Linked DNA regions of Homo sapiens: region 2 is linked to region 1. Evidence: fine-mapped expression QTL. Tissue or cell type: lung. Region 1 holds a variant in brackets; the other region holds the start of a gene. All regions are shown on one strand. Distances are from middle to middle.

Region 1 (10,431 bases):
TCTGTATATGAACAGTGATACTTGTTTTTCAATCATTTCTTATTTGACTTGTAAAACAGAATTTTTCTATTTTTGGAAAATATCTTAAAAATTAAGAACAAGCCCTTCTCCTCAGTGCTACACATAAAGGACCTTATTTGTCACCTTCTGTCCTGGAATGACAGGACAGGTCGACCCTAATTTCACTCCTCTAAACAAGGTAATGATGGCTTGTGCAGGAAATCTAAATCTGGCCTCAGAGGCAGCCCAGTGATTTTCCAGGTCAAGGGAAAGGGAGAAAGCAAAGATCTGAAGCTCTGTCCTCCTCTCCTGGGTATCTGCCGTCCACAGAGCTGGGGGAAGTCTGCCATCTAGTGGAAAGTAGAGGGCACTGACAGTTACTTGCAATAGTGGTTTCCCAGGACCGCTTGAGCATCAAGCGTTTCTGATCCGGGGGCATAGCTTCCATCAGGGACAGGGTGGACTAGCAGAAGAATATTCAACAACAACAAGTAACATTCAAACCCAATACACAAATGTTTCTTTATATATATAAACTACACATAGTGCCCTATACAAAGTGCTTCTTCATAAAGTAGTGCCAGGTGAAGTGCTAAGTGTTTTAGTTAATAAATCTCATCTCATTTCTACAGTGATTATCAATGTATTCTGCATGATTTTTCCTATACAATGGCAAAAACACAGGGTGGGAAGTATACTTAATCCCTAACACAGTGATTACCATTATACTTTTAAAATTGCTGTACAGAGAATATTTTCCATCGGTTCAGATCCATACAATAATCGATTTCAGTTTATGCTTGTCTTTTGACAACAATTGACATATTCAGGTAACAACATTAAGGGGGCTGGGGGACAGACCAAGTTACTCAGATATATTTGTGCTCTCTCCTTTTGATTTCATTTGATTTCATTTGTTACACTGTTCCAATTTGCTTTAAGTGATTGTTTTTAATTATATTAAAGTAGCACATGCCATGCATATATTTAAAAGCATGGTCTCCTCTTCCGCCCCTTCCCACCTCTAGTCTTGGTCCCTAGAGGTAATGACCTGCAGTTCTGTTAGTTGCTTCTTTTCGTATTTTCCTCCATAATCTCTAAATAAAACGCTCTGCTTCTATTTCCTTGTCTGTCTGTGGTGGATTGACTGCCTTAGTTTGGGTTCTTTCAGAGGCAGATCCTGAAATGGATGATTCAAGGACAGGATGGGAAAGTAAGATGAGGAGAAGGCCATCAGTAAAGGGCAAATCATCACACCAGCTGCCACCATAGGCACCTGCACCAGACCCAGTGTAGAAATGGGAGCCAGTGCGAAACAGAGCTCACGACCACTGGTTTAGAGCTGCTCCTGTCACATGGGCAGCAAGTAAGCTCCAGCACCAAGAGCAACACCAAAGCAGATGCTGGCAATTGCACACAGAGCTGCCTTGTGCAGCCGTGGTCAGGGCCAGGTGTGTGGGCAGGGAACTGCCAGTGTCTGCTACAGCCATCTCACCTGTCGGGTACCCAGGTAAGCAAGAGCCTTGCACACCCCCACCTTCCTCATCCTTCCCTTTTCACCCCACCTCCTCTCTCCTACTGCTCAGCTTCTGATTACATTTGCTTCCTTGTTTACATTCTTCTATAGCTATATTTAGGCCTACAGTTTGATTTTGAAAGCACATTGATGATGTGACTTTGCAGTATTTTTCACTGCCGAGCTAGTGTTCACTATAATTACATTTCTTTTTTTTTTTTTTTGAGACAGGGTCTCGCTCTGTTGCCCAGGCTGGAGTGCAGTGGCACAATCACAGCTCACTGCAGCCTGACCTCCCAGGCTCAAGCAATCCTCCCACCTTAGCTGCTCTCCCCTCAATAGCTGGGACTACAAGCACAGGCCACCATGCCCAGCTAATTTTTATATTTTTCGTACAGATGGGGTTTTGCTACGTTACCAAGGCTGGTCTCAAACTCCTAGCCTCAAGCGATCTGCCCACTTCAGCTTCTCAAAGTGCTGGGATTATATAGGCATGAGCCGCCACACCCAGCCACATTTCGTTTATATTAGAGCTTTTTAATTTTTCCTGAAGTTATTAACTGCCTTTTAATTTTCTTGCACCTTTTGCCCTTGTTTCACATTAGTGTTTTTCCTTGACCTCTTCTGCCAATTAGGGATCAAGTGTTCCATGGAGACTCTTTCTTTTTTTATTATTATTATTTTTTTTTTTTTAATTTTTTTTAAGTGGAGTCTCACTCTGTCACCCAGGCTGGCATGCAGTGGCGCAATCTCAGCTCACTGCAACCTCCACCTCCTGGGTTCAAGCGACTCTCGTGCCTCAGCCTCCCAAGTAGCTGGGATTCCAGGCATGTGCCACCACACCCAGCTAATTTTTGTGTTTTTATTAGAGATGGGGTTTCACCATGTTGGCCAGGATGGTCTCCATCTCCTGACCTTGTGATCCGCCCACCTCAGCCTCCCAAAGTGCTGGGATTACAGGTGTGAGCCACAGTGCCCAGCCCCATGGAGACCCTTTCTATGTAGAGTTTCTCTGCAGGGCCTTGTCTCATACTGTGGAATGTTCCTACAAGGGAATACTACTCTGCAAAACAAAGAATAAATTATTGAGACATGCAACAACACAGATAACTCTGATTGACTTTGCAGAGTGAAAAGCTAGACATTTACATAAAATTCTATGAAATACAAATGAATCTACAGTGATAGAAAGAAAGAAATCAGGCTGGGTGCGGTGGCTCACGCCTGTAATCCCAGCACTTTGGGAGGCCGAGGTGGACAGATCACGAGGTCAGGAGTTCGAGAGCAGCCTGGCCAATATGGTGAAACCCTGTCTCTACCAAAAATACAAAAATTAGCCAGGCATGGTGGCACGCTCCTGTAGTCCCAGCTACTCAGGAGGCTGAGACAGAAGAATCACTTGAACCCAGGAGGCTGAGGTTGCAGTGAGCCGAGATCACACCACTGCACTCCAGCCTGGGCAACAGGGCGAGATTCCGTCTCAAAAAAAAAAAAGAAAGAAAGCAATCAGTGGTTTCTTGATGTACTCAGAAACTGGTATGTTCACCATCTTTTGTTCATGGGTATGTACATATGTCAAAGCTTATGAAATTATATAATTTAAACATGTGCAGTTTATTGTGATTAATTATAATAAATCCAGTTACACTCAATAAAGTGTTGATGATGTCAATGGTACCATGAATAAAATAGAAAGATTATTAGTTAATGCTATGTGAATAAAATAGAAAGAACATTGTTGAACAAACCATTTGACCAATGAATGTTTCTCACTGCCTTATAAAAAGAGTAAGTGAATTATTAAGGCTTAGCAAAGTAAAGAAAGTCTCCCACAGTCTCTGATTGGAATTCCATAAAACAATAGTCGTACATTTTTACTAGACAAAGAAAACATACATATAAAATAGCTAACTTTTCAAACTCCAGCAAAAGTCTCCATTCATTTACTTTTTGTTCGCCTTAATATAGCTTTATTACCTTATAGAACATTTCCCTATATCTTAAGGGGGAACATCTTTACAAAGAGTAAAGCAGGAAGGGAATAAAATCAGGACAAAAACAAAGATCACTAAAGGATGAGCTTTAAACCATGTTCCTCATCTTCTGGTAGAATTCCACCAGATTCTTCTACTTAGAAACTCAAGCACCCAACTCATCAATTTCACCTCTAATTCTACACTTGCAACTTTATCAGCCATGTCTTCTGAGAGCTTGCACTCATATTCACCAACACATCCAAAACCAAAACAGATTTAGAAACAGCTCTAGACTCCTTGCAGAGAGGGAGTCTCACCTTATCATTCTTTTCAGCATTCCAAGTAATTGTACCCTCTCCCATCCTTCCCATCTCCTCCCCAGGCCATTGAAAAGGGTTGAATTTTAAGTACATAGTTGACCCTTCAACCTGGACACCGTTTATTGAACTGTCTGGTTGTGAAACTGCATTGCCACATATCAATATAGTTGTGGGAACTTGGAGATTCAATAGGTATAACAATCTGTTTATGTTAAAACAAACAAAACAGCCATCTCCTTTTATGTGCAGAGCCTACTGCTGTAAGGCACAAGGCTTACTCCTGAGACAGAGTACCAGGAGACAGGAGGCAATTTGAGAGGCTATAGCAAGATAACTGAGTAAAATACTAACTTGTATTTATGTCCCTATATTTTCCCTTTTTTCTCATTTCAGAGCAGGAGTCAGGCCTTTAGCATTTCCTTCCCTTGGTGATTTTTTAAAGTAGAAATCAGAAGTCACTTTCAATCAAAGTCTTTTCTGTCTTTTGCAAACACTGAAGCTACCTGCAGAGAGGATGACAGGGGCCTCAGAGGGAAGAGGAGAGGGATAATTTTAAGAGCAAAGAGAAAAAGAGGTGGGTCGGAGGTTTGGAAGAAGACAAAGGTTAGTGGGTCCCAAGGCTAAGGGAGATCCACATTCTACTCATCACCATTTCAGAATGGAAAGGCCGGACCCCAGACACAGACACTCCATGTCTTCCCAACTCCTCCCATCCCAAGCATGGCACAACTGCTGGAACCAAGGGACCATGCAGGCTAGAACAAAGGGCGCCTCAGCTGTGAGTGGTGTAGACCATGGCCAGTGTCCAAAGGGGCCAACATCCTAGATCATTGGCACAACACTGAGTGGTTAAGGAGCTGGACTTAAGTTGATTTAAATTAAAAAAGAAAAAACCACATTTTTACCATCCCATTTGCTGCAGTAAGATTGATGTGGGGACCCCCTGCAGTACAGCAAAGACTGGCTGGGTGACACATAGCTACAGAAGGCACTGATTACAGGTGCTGGGATTCAGGCCACTTCATCCTGAGCCCGTGGCTGAGATTGTGTGGTAGAATCGGTGTAATCAGATGAGTGTAAACTCATGCTGACTAGGGAAAACTGGGAGTCTATAATAAGCTTAGGTTCGAAGCGTACTTTAGAAAGCTTTAAAATCCCTGGACAAACCAGCCTCTCTTTCTGGAGTAACAAAATACAAATCACTTGTTTGTTATGGTTATCTTGACTTTGTGGAAGTGAATTTAAAACAGGACATTATCAATGAACACAAAACAAAAAATCAAATAAAAGGATTGTTTCCAACATTGTCAAACTTGTGTAAATTAAAAACAAATAAACAAACCAACCAACCCTGGGCAGATACAAAGTGATCAGAGAAGGAAGTGAGGACAGTGGGAGCCTTGTTAGTTTGCTAAGATTAAAATCCTCTGTAATTCTCAGAAAATATCTAGAAAGATTTTAAGGTTTCTAAGTTAATTCTCTTTTTAAAAATTACAATTCTCCCTGGAGGAGGAGAGGCACAGAGAAGCCAATAGACATGCTACCTGGAGAATGGGCCCACGTGTCCAGGTAGCAGTAAGCTATTCTGTCTGTGATGGACATAACAGTTCCCAGAAACTGAGGTATTTTCCATCATTTCCAGTGATACTACCCCAAGTGTCCCCCACCCCCCGAGGAGAGACATTTGAATCTTATTTAGGGAATACCCCCAAGAAACTGCTGCTATTGCAGAACTAGAAAGCAAGAAATGGAGAAATGAATGATGATGTGGCTCCCTCAGAGTCCCCTCTGCTTCCTGGATTGCTGCCTCCCTGGGCTTCCTCTCCTGCAGCCACACGGGCCTCCTGCAGGTTCCTCCCTCCTGTGGCCACTGCATCTGCTTCCCTCTGCTGCCTGGATGCTCTTTCCAGACTCAGTATAGAGCATTCCTGCACCACCTTCAAACAGCACCTCCTCAATAAGGCCTTCTCTATCAATCTCTGTACAACTGCAGCCCTGGCCACAGCCCCAGCTCTCCCTTCTGCACTTAGCACCATCTGACACACTACATGTTTTACTTAATAGTTTATCATCTGTCTCTCCCCACTAGACAAGAAGTACTGAGTCTTTTGTTCAATGTTGTGACCTCAGCCCACATTGGCTGCTGTATTAGTCCATTTTCACACTGCTGATAAAGACATACCTGAGACTGGGAAGAAAAAGAGGTTTCAATGGACTTACAGTTCCACATGGCAGGGGAGGCCTCAAAATCATGGAGGGAGGCAAAAGGCACTTCTTACATGGCAGCGGCAAGATAAAATGAGGAAGAATCAAAAGTGGAAACCCCTGATAAACCCATCAGATCTTGTGAGACTTATTCACTATCACAAGAAAAGCATGGGAAAGACCTGCCTCCATGATTCAATTATCTCCCCCTGGGTACCTCCCACAACATGTGGGAATTCTGGGAGATATAATTCCAGTTGAGATTTTGGTGGGGACACAGCCAAACCATATCATTCCACCCCTGGCCCTCCAAATCTCATGTCCTCACATTTCAAAACCAATCATGCCTCCACCAGTTCCCCAAAGTCTTAACTCATTTCATCATTAACCCCAAAAGTCCACAGTCCAAAGTCTCATCTGAGACAAAGGAAGTCCCTTCCACCTATGAGCCTGTAAAATCAAAAGCAAGCAGTTACTTCCTAGATACAGTGGGGATACAGTTATTGGGTAAATACAGCCATTCCCAGTGGGAGAAATTGGCCAAAACAAAGGGGTTACAGGGCCCATGCAAGTCCGAAATCCAGCAGGGCAGTCAAATTTTACAGTTCCAAAATGATTTCCTTTGACTCCAGGTCTCACATCCAGGTCATGCTGATGCAAGAGGTGGGTTCCCTTGATCTTGGGCAGCTCTGCCCCTGTGGCTTTGCAGGGTACAGCTTTTCTTCCGGCTGCTTTCATGGGCTCGTGTTGAGTGTCTGCAGCTTTTCCAGGCACACAGTACAAGCCGTCTGTGGATCTACCATTCTGGGGTCTGGAGGATGGTGGCCCTCTTCTCACAGCTCCACTGCGCAGTGTCCTAGTAGGGACACTGTATAGGGGCTCCAACCCCACGTTTCCCTTCTGCACTGCCCTAGCAGAGGTTCTCCATGAGGGCCCAGCCCCTGCAGCAAACTGTTGCCTGGGCATCCAGGCGTTTCCATACATCTTCTGAAATCTAGGTGAAGGTTCCCAAACCTCAGTGCTTGACCTCTTTACACCCACAGGCTCAACACCACATGGAAGCTGCCAAGGCTTGGGATTCCACCCTCTGAAGCCACAGCCTGAGCTGTACATTGACTCTTTTCAGCCACGGCTGGGACACAGGGCACCAAGTCCCTAGGCTGCACACAGCATGGGGACCCTGGGCCTGGCCCACAAAACCACTTTTTCCTCCTGGGCCTCTGGGCCTGTGATGGGAGGGGCTGCCATAAAGTCTCTGACATGGCCTGGAGACATTTTCTCCACGGTCTTGGGGATTAACATTAACAGCTCCTTGCTACTTAAGCAAATTTCTACAGCCAGGTTGAATTTCTCCCCAGAAAATGGATTTTTCCTTTCTGTTGCATAGTCAGGCTGCAAATTTTCCAAACTTTTATGCTGTGCTTCCCTTATAAAACTGAATGCCTTTAACAGTACCCAAGTCACCTCTTGAAGGCTTTGCTGCTTAGAAATTTCTTTTGCCAGATACCCTAAATTATCTCTCTCAAGTTCAAAGATCCACAAATCTCTAGGGCAGGGGCAAAACGCCCCCAGTCTCTTTGCTAAAACATAACAAGAGTCAACTTTGCTCCATTCCTAACAAGGTCCTCATCTCCATCCTAAATCACCTCAGCCTGGATTTTATTGTCCACATTGCTATCAGCATTTTGGGCTAAGCCATTCAACAACTCTCTAGGAAGTTCAGAACTTTCTCACGTTTTCTTGCCTTCTTCTGAGCCCTCCAATCTGTTCCAATCTCTGCCTGTTACCCAGTTCCAAAGTCACTTCCACATTTTCAGGTATCTTTTCAGCAACGCCCCACTTTACGGGTACCAATTTACTGTATTAGTCCATTTTCACATTGCTGATAAAGACATATCCAAGACTGCACAATTTACAAAAGAAGCCTCATAATCATGGCAGAAGGCAAGGAGGAGCAAGTCACATCTTACATGGATGGCAGCAGGCAAAGAGAGAGAGAGTTTGTGCAGGGAAACTCCTGTTTTTAAAACCATCAGATCTCATGAGACTCATTCACTATCATGAGAAGAGTGCAGGAAAGACCCACCCCCATAATTCATTCACCTCCCACCAGTTCCTTCCATGACATGTGGGAATTGTGGGAGTTACAATTCAAGATGGGATTTGGATGGGGATAAAGCCAAGCCATAACAGGTGCCTACTAAATGCACACTGCAAGAACAAATGAGTGAGTGAATGCTGGTGGAATAAATGCTGAAGTGGCCTGGGGTTAGTGGCTGTGGCTTAGTGTCTGGGTATAGGATTCTGGGGCCCACTGACAATCATCTTTGTTTACACTGTGGTCAGAAAGCTGGTCAGCTTGGACTTGAGCACAGTGGAAGGGGCTAGGCTGGGAGAACATCATAGGATGTG[C/T]TCTCCCAGAGAGTGGCCTAAATGACTTCAGACTGCTCCACATGTCTCCCAATGAGAGCATATGGCAAAGGAGGGTTGCTCCCTCCACAGTATTTTTACTCCTTTGGTGCTCTTTTCAAAAAAGGAAGTTCCATGAGAACAAAAGGGCTGGCAAAGTTCCTATTGGGGGATGAGGAAGCCATGCCACATTTTTACAAATGCAACATAATGCCAAGCTCAAAGACAAAATACTGTAAAGTACAATCTCTGCTTGCATAAATTTATTCTCTTGACTGGGAGACAAGACTAATAGGTGAGAAACAAATATGGCAGCATTTTTCTAACAAAGATTCCCTGAGAACAGAGGAGCAGATGCTGGCAATTGCACACAGAGCTGCCTTGTGCAGCTGTGGACAGGGACAGGTGTGTGGGCAGGGAACTGCCAGTGTCTGCTACAGCCATCTCACCTGTCAGGTATCCAGGTAAGCAAGAAGCTTACAGAAATAACTGATAAGTTATTTCTGAAGTCTGGATAGTATTGGAGTTGAAATGCAGAATTTCTCTGCAGTCTTATGTTTTAATTTTTAAATCAAATTTTGGATGTAATCTGCATTATGAAATTTTAAAAAATTACTTACCAGTGAATTCAACTTAGAATTTTTTCCCACAATTTCAAGACAAACTGATACTCCACGGCAAAATGAGCCTGGCCAATCCTGAGGCTCTGGGTCCCCCTTGGTACTGTGAACCCCAGGGCTGTAACTCTAATGGGTAAATGTGGAATTTTGATATCACAAAAAATATCACCTTGTGTCAAAATGCATCATACAGACAATATCTACAAGGGCTGCTCAGGAAAGGCCAAAATGTTTGGAAAGACTACATGGAGCCAGCTGTAAAAAGCATGATTCAAACTGGTGCCAAACATCTAAGCTAGCTAAGCTGTAGGATACAATTTTTGCTTTATTTATAATTTTTTTTTTTCAATTAGGAAACTGAGACTTAAGAATTTTCTCTAAAAAAAATAAAAACTGGAAAACAAGTAATTTTAGAAACAAATATATATTTTTGATAGAAACTGTAAGTAAATATTCAGTACTACCAGAAATATACTATCTTCAACTCTCGGCTTTTTTCCAAAAGATACAGAATCATTTTTTGGAAAAGATACAAGATGTACAGACAAATCACATTCATACCTTACAATTTAAATTCATAATGAACAATGAATATTTTCATATTTTCCAGAAGTTTGAAATTTCAAAGTTGTTAGCAAAATTATTCATTTCCATAATTTTTACGAGTAAAAATAGAAAGAGCTGATCATGTACCTTAATATTGTCACTTTATATATTACTCAAAAGTACAAATAACCCTAAAAGTAGAATCCCAGGCTTATCATATTATAAAAATACTGAGACATTTATCAAACATAACTAATATAAATGAAACTACATTTTTAAAAATGTTTCACAAACACCAGTCCATCTTTCTCTTTGGTTCAGAAAATAAAAGAGGTAGGTTCAAATAAAGAAAATGCCTATTACATCATTAGATTTTCATTAAAATGCTGGAAATTTATAACAGAAATTATTAGAAGTGAAATGAGTTTAAGAACTAAATTAAAAACTGATAATAACTTCAACTAGTAAATATTTTTCTAAGTTCTAATCACACAAATAAGAAAAGATAGTTGACTATAAAAATGGCTTTAGTAAAATAAAAAAATGCTCTCATTATTATAAATTAAGTCTCCTATATCCTAACATGTTCCTAAAACTTGGGGCAAGAGAGAATATGAATGTATATGTTTACAAATTGGGCCTTTCATTTAAATATAGGTATCTAATGTATAAGAGTAATACATACTACTATTAATATGTATCTCTCACCTTTGTGCTGCCCATATTGAAAACAGCAAGTTCAAAGATATTCAACAGTGAGGGAGAAATAAGCACATCATTTGCTCATGATCAATCCACTTCATGCAATTAAAAAAGAAATTTCAGGTTACTAAGAATGG
Region 2 (10,431 bases), 70 kb after region 1:
TTAGAATGCTACAAAGATAGAAAGGGTATTTTATACCTTACTAAAGAATTCTTCCATTTTTTTCATTCTTTCAGACACTTTATTTCTGCAGAGAAGGATAACATCAAATTTAGAATATAAATCAGGAGAGAACACAAAAGATACAGATTTTATATATTTTAGAACATTTGACAGAAATGTAGTTGGAATTCCATTGTTTTTCTTATACCATAATCTTTCTGTTGTGATGCCCTAAAATTCACCCTGTGATTTCATATCATGTCTTCTTAATATTGTGCCAGAAACCATAACATGTCTGACAATTAAAATATTAAGGAAATGGGCTGGCCATGGTAGCTCATGCCTGTAATCTTAGCACTTTCAGAGGCAGAGGCAGGCAGATCACTAGAGGCCAGGAATTCAAGACCAGCCTGACCAAAATGGCAAAATCCCATCTCTACTAGAAAATACAAAAGTTAACCAGGTGTGGTGGCATGTGCCTGTAATCTCAGCTGCTTGGGAGGCTGAGGCACAAGAATCGCTTGAATCCAGGAAGCAGAGGCTGCAGTGAGCCGAGATCGCACCACTGCACTCCAGCCTTGGTGATAGAGCAAGATTCTGTCTCCAGAAAAAAAAAAAAAAAGCAATATTAATGAAATAAAAATGAAATGAACCCTCTTTGTTAACAGAGGAATTACTTAATGGAGTGAAATCCTGATTCCACTCAATGCAATAAACATTTGCTAAGCTACTATTCTTCTATGTGACTATTTTTTCTGTGATTGTAAATGTAAAAACTTAAAGACAGAATTAAAAAAATCATAGAATGTAAGAGTTAGAATGGCCCTTAAATCAGGTTACCAGTCCACCCACTCCTCTAACATTGGGTGATCATTCAGCATACACTTCATACCCATGGGCACAGAGGTTCCTCAAGAAGTTCACCAGCTAGTAAATGGGATACCACATTTTAAAGGGTTTTTTAACATGAACTTTCATATTCTGCAACATATGACCTTGTTAAAAGCTCTGTCCAGGATGCAGGCAAGATATCTGCATTTTAAGAATAAGAAAGTAAAGCTCCAGTAAGGCTCAAACTTGACAAGGATTACACGGTCAATTTACACCAAGGACGGAACTCTCTTGTAGCTTGCTGCTTCCCTTCTTGCTCTTGATAATTGTCCTAGTCCAACTGGGCTGCTATGACAAAAATACTATTGGCTTACTTAAAAAATAAGCATTGATTTCTTGCAGTTCCAGACACTGGAAGTCCTAGATCGAAGTGCTAGGAGATTTACTGTCTAGTGAGGACCCACTTTCCGGTTCCATGGACCACTGTTTTCTCACTGTGTCCTCACATGGTGGAAGGGGCAAGGAAGGTCTTCCAGGTCACTTTTATACAAGCACTAATCCCATTCATGAAGGCTCCACAGGAAGAAAGAAGATGGGGGTAGAAGGAGGAAGACAAGAGGGAGAAGGAGGTGCGTAAAGAGAAAATAACTGAAGACTTTTAAAAGGAAATAGGATTACTAGACAAGTATAAGAGAATTAGTAATGGTTAAATACTGTATCTCCTTGTTCTCACACTACATTCTACTCTCAGTCTATACCCTTATACTACTGAGTCCTAGGAGAACTTAATGTGAATTTTCTCTAATTTTTAACTTTAATTTTTCACTAATTTCATAGTGAGGAGATTTGGAACATACAGAAAAGAAAGGTCATACCAGAAAAAAAAATGTAGCGCTTTCACTTCCAATTGGTTCTTAATTTTGTCTCAGGACTTGCCTTGAATTCTTTTCTCTTCCCTGGATAATTCTGGAACACTTAGTAATGGTTAGCTATTATATTCCTTATACCTATTTCTACATTCTACTCTTATTTCTACATTCTTTCCATCTAAAATCTAAAGAAACTTAAACAGAAATTTGTTCTCTTCTAAATGCTCAATTCATTACAAATGCTTGGAAACACGGAGATGAGATCAAATCAGATGAAAATTTATAGAGATTTTGCTTCAAGCTGAGTATTTGGCTTAGATACAAACTACTACCTTGAAACTTTCCACCGAAGAGTCACCCCACAGTTCTCATTTCTATGCTCAAGTAGCCAATGTCCTCACTCCTTGACATTACATAAACCCCTGACATGCCTCTGAAATTTTCTCCCATAAAGGTTGACTGTGTAATCCTAATTCTATCCCATGTGTGATGGTTAATTTTATGTATCAACTCGTCTGGACTAAGGGATGCCCAGATAACTGGTAAAACATGATTTCTGGGTGTGTCTGTGAGGATGTCTCTGGAGGAGGGTAGCATTTGAATCAGTAAACCAATTAAAGAAGACTGCCCTCACCAAATGGGTAGGCATAATGCAATCCTGTGGAGGATGTGAATAGAACCAAAAGGCAAAGCAAGTGCTACGTTTTGTTTGTCCCCACAAAAACTCATGTTGAAGTCTGATCCCTGATGTGGCCGTGTTGGGAGGAGGGACCTAGCAGGAGGTGTCAGGGTTACGGAGGCAGATCCCTCATGAATGGCTTGGTGTCATTCTTGCAGTAGTGAGTGAGTTCTCTCTCTCATGAGACTGAATTAGTTCCCTCAGTAATGGATCAGTTCCCTCGAGGCTGGGTTGCTATAAAGCCAGGACACCCCTCGGATTTTGCTTCTTCACACATGTCCACTTCCACTTTGACTTTCCACCATGTTGTGACACAGCAGGAAAGCCCTCCCCAGGAGTCCAGCAGATGCCAGCACCACGCTTCTTAAACTTCCCAGCCTGCGGAACTGTGAGCTAAATAAATGTCTTTTCTTTATAAATTACCCTGTCTCAGATATTCCACTATAGCAACACTAAATGGACTAAGACAGGAAATGAAAAGGAATTTCACCTGCAGAATAGGAGACTTTACAAAGACTGATACCCTGAATGAGCGAGGATGTGGAGAAGCAAGCACTGTCAGTCAAAAGAGTGAAAATGGGTCTAAGGTTTCCGAAAGGCAATACGTATCCCAGTTTAAAATGTGTGTTACCTTCAGACTCAGCAATGTCCACTCCTCAAAATTTATCTTACGAAAGTAACTGGACCAGAATGAGAAAATGAATACAAAGGACATCCATTGCAATTTCACTTACAATCGTTTTTAAACTATCAATAAAGTAAAAGGTGATTTAAAAAGAATTGGTAACATATACTATGACACAAACATATAACAGAATATGATGCAGTTACGTAAAAATGGTGATACAGCAGCAATTCTCAAGCTTTTTGATCTCAGGATCCCTTTACAATCTTAAAAATCATTGAGCACTCCAAAGAGCTTTTGTATATTGTAGGGACCATGGAGTTGTACCACTGAGATCTCCCTTCAAAGGCACCTACTGTGAGGAACACAGTTGACTTCCACTCTCTAGCCTCTAACCCTGGCATCTGCTGATGCACTGCAGCAAGGTCGTCCCTTTCCTGGGCTGCTTCCAGCCAATGATTGGACATGGTGGGGAACTCCAACTGGGCCATTTCTGGGACAATCAGCACAAAGTACCAAAAGTTGGTTCCTTCAAAGTATGAATAAAATACACAAAACTTTGGCAAGATTGAAGGGGAGAAAAGGATAGATATGAGGAATGAAATAGAGAACCTACCTACAGATTCAGTCAGAAGTGTTATAAAATCATCGGTGAGTATTATGAACCTTGGACAGAACAGGCAGTTTCAAAAAAAATTGTAACTTACTAAATCTGACTCTAGAAGAAACAGTAAACTGAAGAGGCCTATAACTACCAAAGACATTAAAAGAGAAGTGAAATATAACTATATAACAGTTGTTGGCCCTCATAGTAACCTAATCACTTTCCCTCTTTGGATAAGAGAATGCCAGTGTCAGGGAACGCTTCAACAGGGTTGGAGAAGTTCCACATATCTCCACCCTACTAAAGGGGCAGAAGTTCAGGGGCACAGTTAAGATGACTCAGAGAAAATGAAATTGCTCAGTCGCAGGTCAAGTCAACCCTTCAGATCAATTTATGTACCTAGGGCATTAACCTAGGAATGTCTTAAACAATGGAATGCCGCCATTCCTTCTCAACAGGAAGTGGGGGAAACACGCGATTGGTTTTCAAACAGTTTTCAAACAGTAGACAATACACATAGCTGCTGTAACAAAGCAGCTTCGAAAGAGATCGAATGTGTGCGCCTTTATACAAAACTTGGGACCCACTGAAGTCTGACAGCTAAAACGGATTACATGTCTGCAAGGTATTAAAACAGAAAACAAAGAACCTGGGATGGATTCAGGACAAAAGTGTCTTAAAAATTTAACAGTGCCCGTGGGCCAGAGTGTCCACAACACTCATTTTATCTGGACAAATACCAGTAGACTTTCGTATTATGACCCACTTCTGTTACCGGGGTCGCCGGTCGCGGCCCCACGCCCGAGTTTCTGAAGCCACCGGAGCGCTGGGCGCCACAGTTCCTCCTTCCTCTCCTGGCAACGCCTCAAGCCGCCGCCCTCCTCGGTCCTCGCAGTGTCCCCAGCGCCCGCAGCCCTCCCTACGCTCAGGCGGCGCCCCGGCGGCGACCCACCTCCTCGGCGTCCTGGCCCAGAGGGATGCCCAGGTTCCTGAGCCCCTCCTGCAGCTCGCCGATGTCCACCACTCCGTCCCCATTGCGGTCCAGTGCCTGGAAGAGGGTCTCGTAGCGCGTCGGCTGCTCCGCGTCCTGGCAGGCCGCGGTGGGCAGCACGAAGTCCCGCAGCCAGCGCAACATGGTCCCAGAGGCGCAGGCGGCCTGGCCGAGGAAGTCACGGGAGATCGAGGGCTGCGGGGCGAGACCGGGACCAGCGCGAGGCCGGGCTGGGCGGGGCGCGCGGCGCAACAGCGTTTGGGGCGCCGTCGGGGTTGCGGCTGCGGCGCGCAGGGCGCAGGGCGCAGGAGCGGAGACCCCACCCGAGCCCGCGCGGAGCGCAGGGTGTGGCCGTCCCGCCGCTGCTGGGGAGGAGCTCGCCGCGCTGGCCTCGGCGGCACTGGCCGGGCCCGCCTCCAGAGAGCCGGAAGTGAGGGAGCTGGGAGCTGGGTCTCGGGAGGTGCTGTGCGGACCCGGGGTCGACCTCTGCCCAGTTGCCAGTCCCGCTGTCAGCATGCGGGTCCGAGGAAGAGGCCCCCAGCAGGTCCAGGGCTGCAGCGTCAGCGCGTCGGTGGCTTGGGAGCGGGGTCTTGAAGACTGGTTACTCCACTTAAAGACCCTCTCGGGCCGGAGCCTTGGCGGTCAGCCCAGAGCTGCTTCTCTCTGCCTGGAAACTGGGCCATGGAGGGCATTGTCTCTCACGGATGTCTAATTTTTTCGTGGTTGCACACCTGGGATGGCGATTCTGCTTTAAAAAGCAGAGAGTTAAATCCTAAAGCATCTATTGGAGCAATTATAAAACAAAAAGGAGAAACTCCTGGATTTGTTGCAGAAAAGATCAACAGCCATCTGCGTGGGCAACGGGGAAAAGAAGGACTAGTTTGGTAGGCAGCTTAGCTAGGATTTGCCCGTGATTAAGCGTATAGAGTGTCTGCCAGCTGCACTTATCAGAAAAAACCACAGCGCCCTCCTCCTTCTCAAGATGGGTGCAGTTCCGAGGTTTGGAGCTTATTACTCAGGCAAGACAGAACTTATTACTGCCTAGCATGGAATAACGGAAGGAACATTGGACTTAACAGAGAAAGTACCTAATCCTTCAGGTGTGACATAGCGTCTCCGGGTAGTCTCTCATCAGTAAAATGAGAATATAAATATCTGCCTTCACAACAAAGTTGTATATTAGGTGTGAAAGGTCTTAATTCTCTAAGGCGCCAATCAAATGAGATATCATTAATTGTAATAATCCTGTTCATTCACAGCTGCGTAAGAGGAACTATTGTTGTACTGCTGTTTGCAGAAAAGAAGATACCTCTGTACTTGTAAATTAGGGTGTCTCACATCTTCTGAATCACTACACAGAAATCAGTTCCAACAACAGCCAGGAACTCAGACCCTGAACTTACCTCTCCTCATATCATTTTGTATGTTTAAGATATGTATGAATCTAGAATTTGTAAATTAAGGGCTGCCTGCTTAGTAAAATCATCTTGAAACTGATTTATCTTTTTATATTACTTCCAACTTCCAGTCTTATTAAGAATCATTGCCTTCCTTTGGAACTGCCTTCAAACTTCAAATTTTCTCTGTCCTTGAAAACCTCTTTTAATCTCTACTCTGAATACTCTGTACTTGAAGAGAGGTTGCTTGAACTAGTCATCTTACACTTACATGCTTTCATTTTACTTTTTATTTATTTCTTTTTTTTTTTTTTTTTTCTTTGAGACAGTCTAGCTCTGTCGCCCAGGCTGGAATGCAGTGGCACAATCTCAACTCACTGCAACCTCCGCCTCCTGGGTTCAAGCTATTCTCCTGCCTCAGCCTCCTGAGTAGCTGGGGCTACAGGCTATTTTACTTTTTTAAAAAAGTAATACTTAGAAAAATTACCTGTCAGCGTTTTTGCTGAGAAAATTATCTTCACACCAAAACTTTTACTTGAGGGTTTATAGCAGTTCTATTCATAACTGTCAAGCGCAGAAACAAAATGTTCTTTAACGGGTGAACTGGTAAACAACCTGTGTTGCATTCATACAGTGAGATAGTAATTAGCAATAAAAAGGAATGAATTACTGATACCTGTCAACAATGACATTCTGGAAAAGGCAAAACTATAGGGACAGAAAACAAATCAGTAGTTACCAGTTGTGACTAGCGGGAAGGGAATTGATGACAAAAGAGCATCAGAAGGCTTGTGGGGGTGATGGAGCTATTTTACATCTTGCTTTTGGTGGTAGTGGTTACACAACTGCATGTGTGTGCCAGCAGAACTGCACACTAACATGGGTTAATTTACTCTGGGATATCAATAAATCTGACTTAAGCATGAGTAAAATGGAATAAAAATTCTCAAAAGATCAGTGTGAACATCAAAACAGTTTATGAATAGTTATGAAGTATGGGCCACACACCAGCAGCATTGGTGTCACATCAGTGTTACTGTGAAAATCAAAGCGTTTATGAAGTGTGGGCCACAGACCAGCAGCATCAGTGTCACTTGGGAGCTTGTCAGAAATAATCTCAGGCCTGCCCAAGCCCACTAAGTAAGAATTGCACTTATACAAGAACCCTGGATGAGCATTTCATAAAGTTTGAAAAGCACAGCTAGTATGAAGCAAACCACTCGAAGTGCAACCTGTTACCTGTCTGCAATGAGTCAGACATTGAGAGGAAGGATTTAGAAACTTTATAGCAATTTGATAAAGTAATTTTGTTATATCTAATAATAAAACTCAGAGCTTGTCTTTTTAATTTCAATTTTCTAGTATTGCATTTTTACTGTATTTTACGACACTATGTCTGCAAGGAATCGAGATAACACCATGAAGATAAAAGGTGTAATTAACACTAGCAACTTCCTGCATAAGAGAAGAAACCTTTACATGGACATTTACACATCTGGACGAAAGAAGGCACCCCTGCTTAATTCTACTGGCAATTCCCAAAGACCAGTGGTTCCTAGAGGGCAGTAGTAGAAACCCAGAATTCACACTTCCTTAATTCATTTCCTTGGTCAGAACAGAAGTCTAGGGTTCAGCCCAATTTAGCTACTTCTATTGTCCCCAACTTCTGGCCTTCTAATGTACTACCATTTTCCACTGGAATAACCTTCAGACTTGACCAGTTTCAGTCCTTGAAGACCTCTTTCAGCACCTACTTTGGAATCTTTTCATAATCATTCTGGATTTGGCTAGTTTTAGTTGATAAACACATTTCTTCTTTCTATCCACTGAATCACTTACTTATTGTGTAGTGCTAATAAGACCAAAGAATCTGCCTCTCCACAAGGAACAATTCTATTTCAAAATCCTTCAAGAATATTCAGAAAGGAAAAAAAGATCCTGGTCATTGCTCCCTCAAATTTGAGTAATCACAGCTTAGGCTCTGTAAGAGAATTTGATTGGTTCAGTGTAAAGCCATAACCATTACTGGAAGGATAATTTTTTTTCATTGTACTTTAAGTTCTGGGATACATGTGCAGAATGTGCAGGTTTGTTACATAGGTATAAATGTGCCATGGTGGTTTGCTGCACCCATCAACCCATCACCTACATTAGGTATGTCTCCTAATGCTATCCCTCCCCTCCCCACTCCCTCCCCTCCCCACCCCCAACAGGCCCCGGCATGTGATGTTCTCCTCCCTGTGTCCATGTGTTCTCATTGTTCAACTCCCACTTATGACTGAGAACATGCGGTGTTTGGTTTTCTGTTCCTGTGTTAGTTTGCTGAGAATGATGGCTTTCAGCATCATCCATGTCACTACAAAGGACATGAACTCATCCTTTTTTATGGCTGCATACTATTCCATGGTATATATGTGCCACATTTTCTTTATCCATTCTATCACTGATGGGCATTTGGGTTGGGTCCAAGTCTTTGCTGTTGTGAATAGTGGTGCAATAAACGTGCATGTGAATGATTTATAATCCTTTGGATATATACACCCAGTAATGGGATTGCTGGGTCAAATGGTATTTCTGGTTCTAGATCCTTGAGGAATCACCACACTGTCTTCCACAACGGTTGAACTAATTTACATTCCCACCACCAGTGTAAAAGCGTTCCTATTTCTCCACATCCTCTCCAGCATCTGTTGTTTCCTGACTTTTTAATGTTCACCAATCTGAGTGGTGTGAGATGGTATCTCATTGTGGTTTTGATTTGCATTTCTCTAATGAACAGTGATGATGAGATTTTCTTCGTATGTTTCTTGGTTGCATAAATGTCTTCTTTTGAGAAGTATCTATTCATATCCTTTGCCCAGTTTTTGATGGGGTTGTTTGTTTTTTTCTTGTAGATTTGTTTAAGTTCCTTGTAGATTCTGGATATTAGCCCTTTGTCAGATGGATAGATTGTAAAAATTTTCTCCCATTCTGTATGTTGCCTGGTCACTCTGATGATAGTTTCTTTTTCTGTGCAGAAGCTCTTTAGTTTAATTAGATCCCATTTGTCAATTTTGGCTTGTGTCACAATTGCTTTTGGTGTTTTAGTCATGAAGCCTTTGCCCATGCCTATGTCCTGAATGGTATTGCCTAGGTTTTCTTCTAGGGTTTTTATGGTTTTAGGTCTTATGTTTAAGTCTTTAATCCATCTTGAATTAATTTTTGTATAAGGTGTAAGGAAGGGGTCCTGTTTCAGTTTTCTGCATATGGCTAGCCAGTTTTCCCAACACCATCTATTAAATGGGGAATCCTTTCCCCATTGCTTGTTTTTATCAGGCTTGTCAAAGCTCAGATGGTTGTAGATGTGTGGCATTATTTCTGTGGACTCTGTTCTGTTCCATTGGTCTATATCTCTGTTTTGGTACCAGTGCCATGCTGTTTTGGTTACTGTAGCCTTGTAGTGTAGTTAAAAGTCAGGTAAAGTGATGCCTCCAGCTTTTCTCTTTTTACTTAAGATTTTCTTGGCTATACGGGCTCTTTTTTGGTTCCATATCAAATTTAAAATAGTTTTTTCTAATTCTGTGAAGAAAGTCAATGGTAGCTTGATGGGATTAGCATTGAATCTATAAATTACTTTGGGCAGTATGGCCATTTTCATGATATTGATTCTTCCTATCCATGAGCATGGAATGTTTTTCCATTTGTTTGTGTTGTCTCTTATTTCCTTGGCATTGGTGTAATTCTCCTTGAAGATATCTTTCACATCCCTTGTAAGTTGTATTCCTAGGTTTTTTATTCTGTTGGTAGCAGTTGTGAATGGGAGTTCACTCATGATTTGTCTCTCTGTTTCTTATTGGTGTATAGAAATGCTAGTGATTTTTGCACATTGATTTTGTACCCTGAGACTTTGCTTGAAGTTGCTTATCAGCTTAAGGAGTTTTTGGGCTGAGACAATGGGGTTTTCTAAATATACAATCATGTCATCTGCAAACAGAGATAATTTGACTTCCCCTCTTCCTATTTGAATATCCTTTATTTCTTTCTTTTGCCTGATTGCCCTGGCCAGAACTTCCAATACTATGTTGAATAGGAGTGGTGAGAAAGGGCATCCTTGTCTTGTGCCAGTTGTCAAAGGGAATGCTTTCAGCTTTTGCCCATTCAGTATGATATTGGCTGTGGGTTTCTCATAAATAGCTCTTATTATTTTGAGATACGTTTCATCAGTACCTAGTTTATTGAGAGTTTTTAGCATGAATCGGCTGTTGAATTTTATCAAAGGCCTTTTCTGCATCTATTGAAATAATCATGTGGCTTTTGTCATTGGTTCTGTTTATGTGATGAATTACGTTTATTGATTTCTGTATGTGGAACCAGCCTTGCATCCCAGGGATGAAGCCAACTTGATCATGGTGGATAAGCTTTTTGATTTGCTGCTGGATTCAGTTTGCCAATATTT

The links. PIP is the estimated chance that this variant, and not a neighbour inherited with it, causes the effect. A credible set is the group of variants that fine-mapping cannot tell apart.
Region 2: SLC25A24 starts here. The variant in region 1 is the best candidate, but not a certain one, in a credible set for the expression of SLC25A24 in lung (TOPMed, PIP 0.65).

What each region holds. Positions count from the first base shown.
Region 1 is chr1:108,125,369-108,135,799 of GRCh38, forward strand. It overlaps SLC25A24 (solute carrier family 25 member 24), which reads right to left. Exons shown (of 10, transcript NM_013386.5): 10 at 8,675-10,431. Among named protein-coding and RNA genes, the nearest start is that of LINC02785, 66 kb to the left of the region's middle. RefSeq lists a silencer at 362-501. The variant C/T (reference allele first, on the strand shown) is at 8,430.
Region 2 is chr1:108,195,396-108,205,826 of GRCh38, forward strand. It overlaps SLC25A24 (solute carrier family 25 member 24), which reads right to left and starts at 4,948. Exons shown (of 10, transcript NM_013386.5): 1 at 4,561-4,948. The coding sequence starts at 4,743. RefSeq lists a silencer at 4,732-5,071 and an enhancer at 4,872-5,166.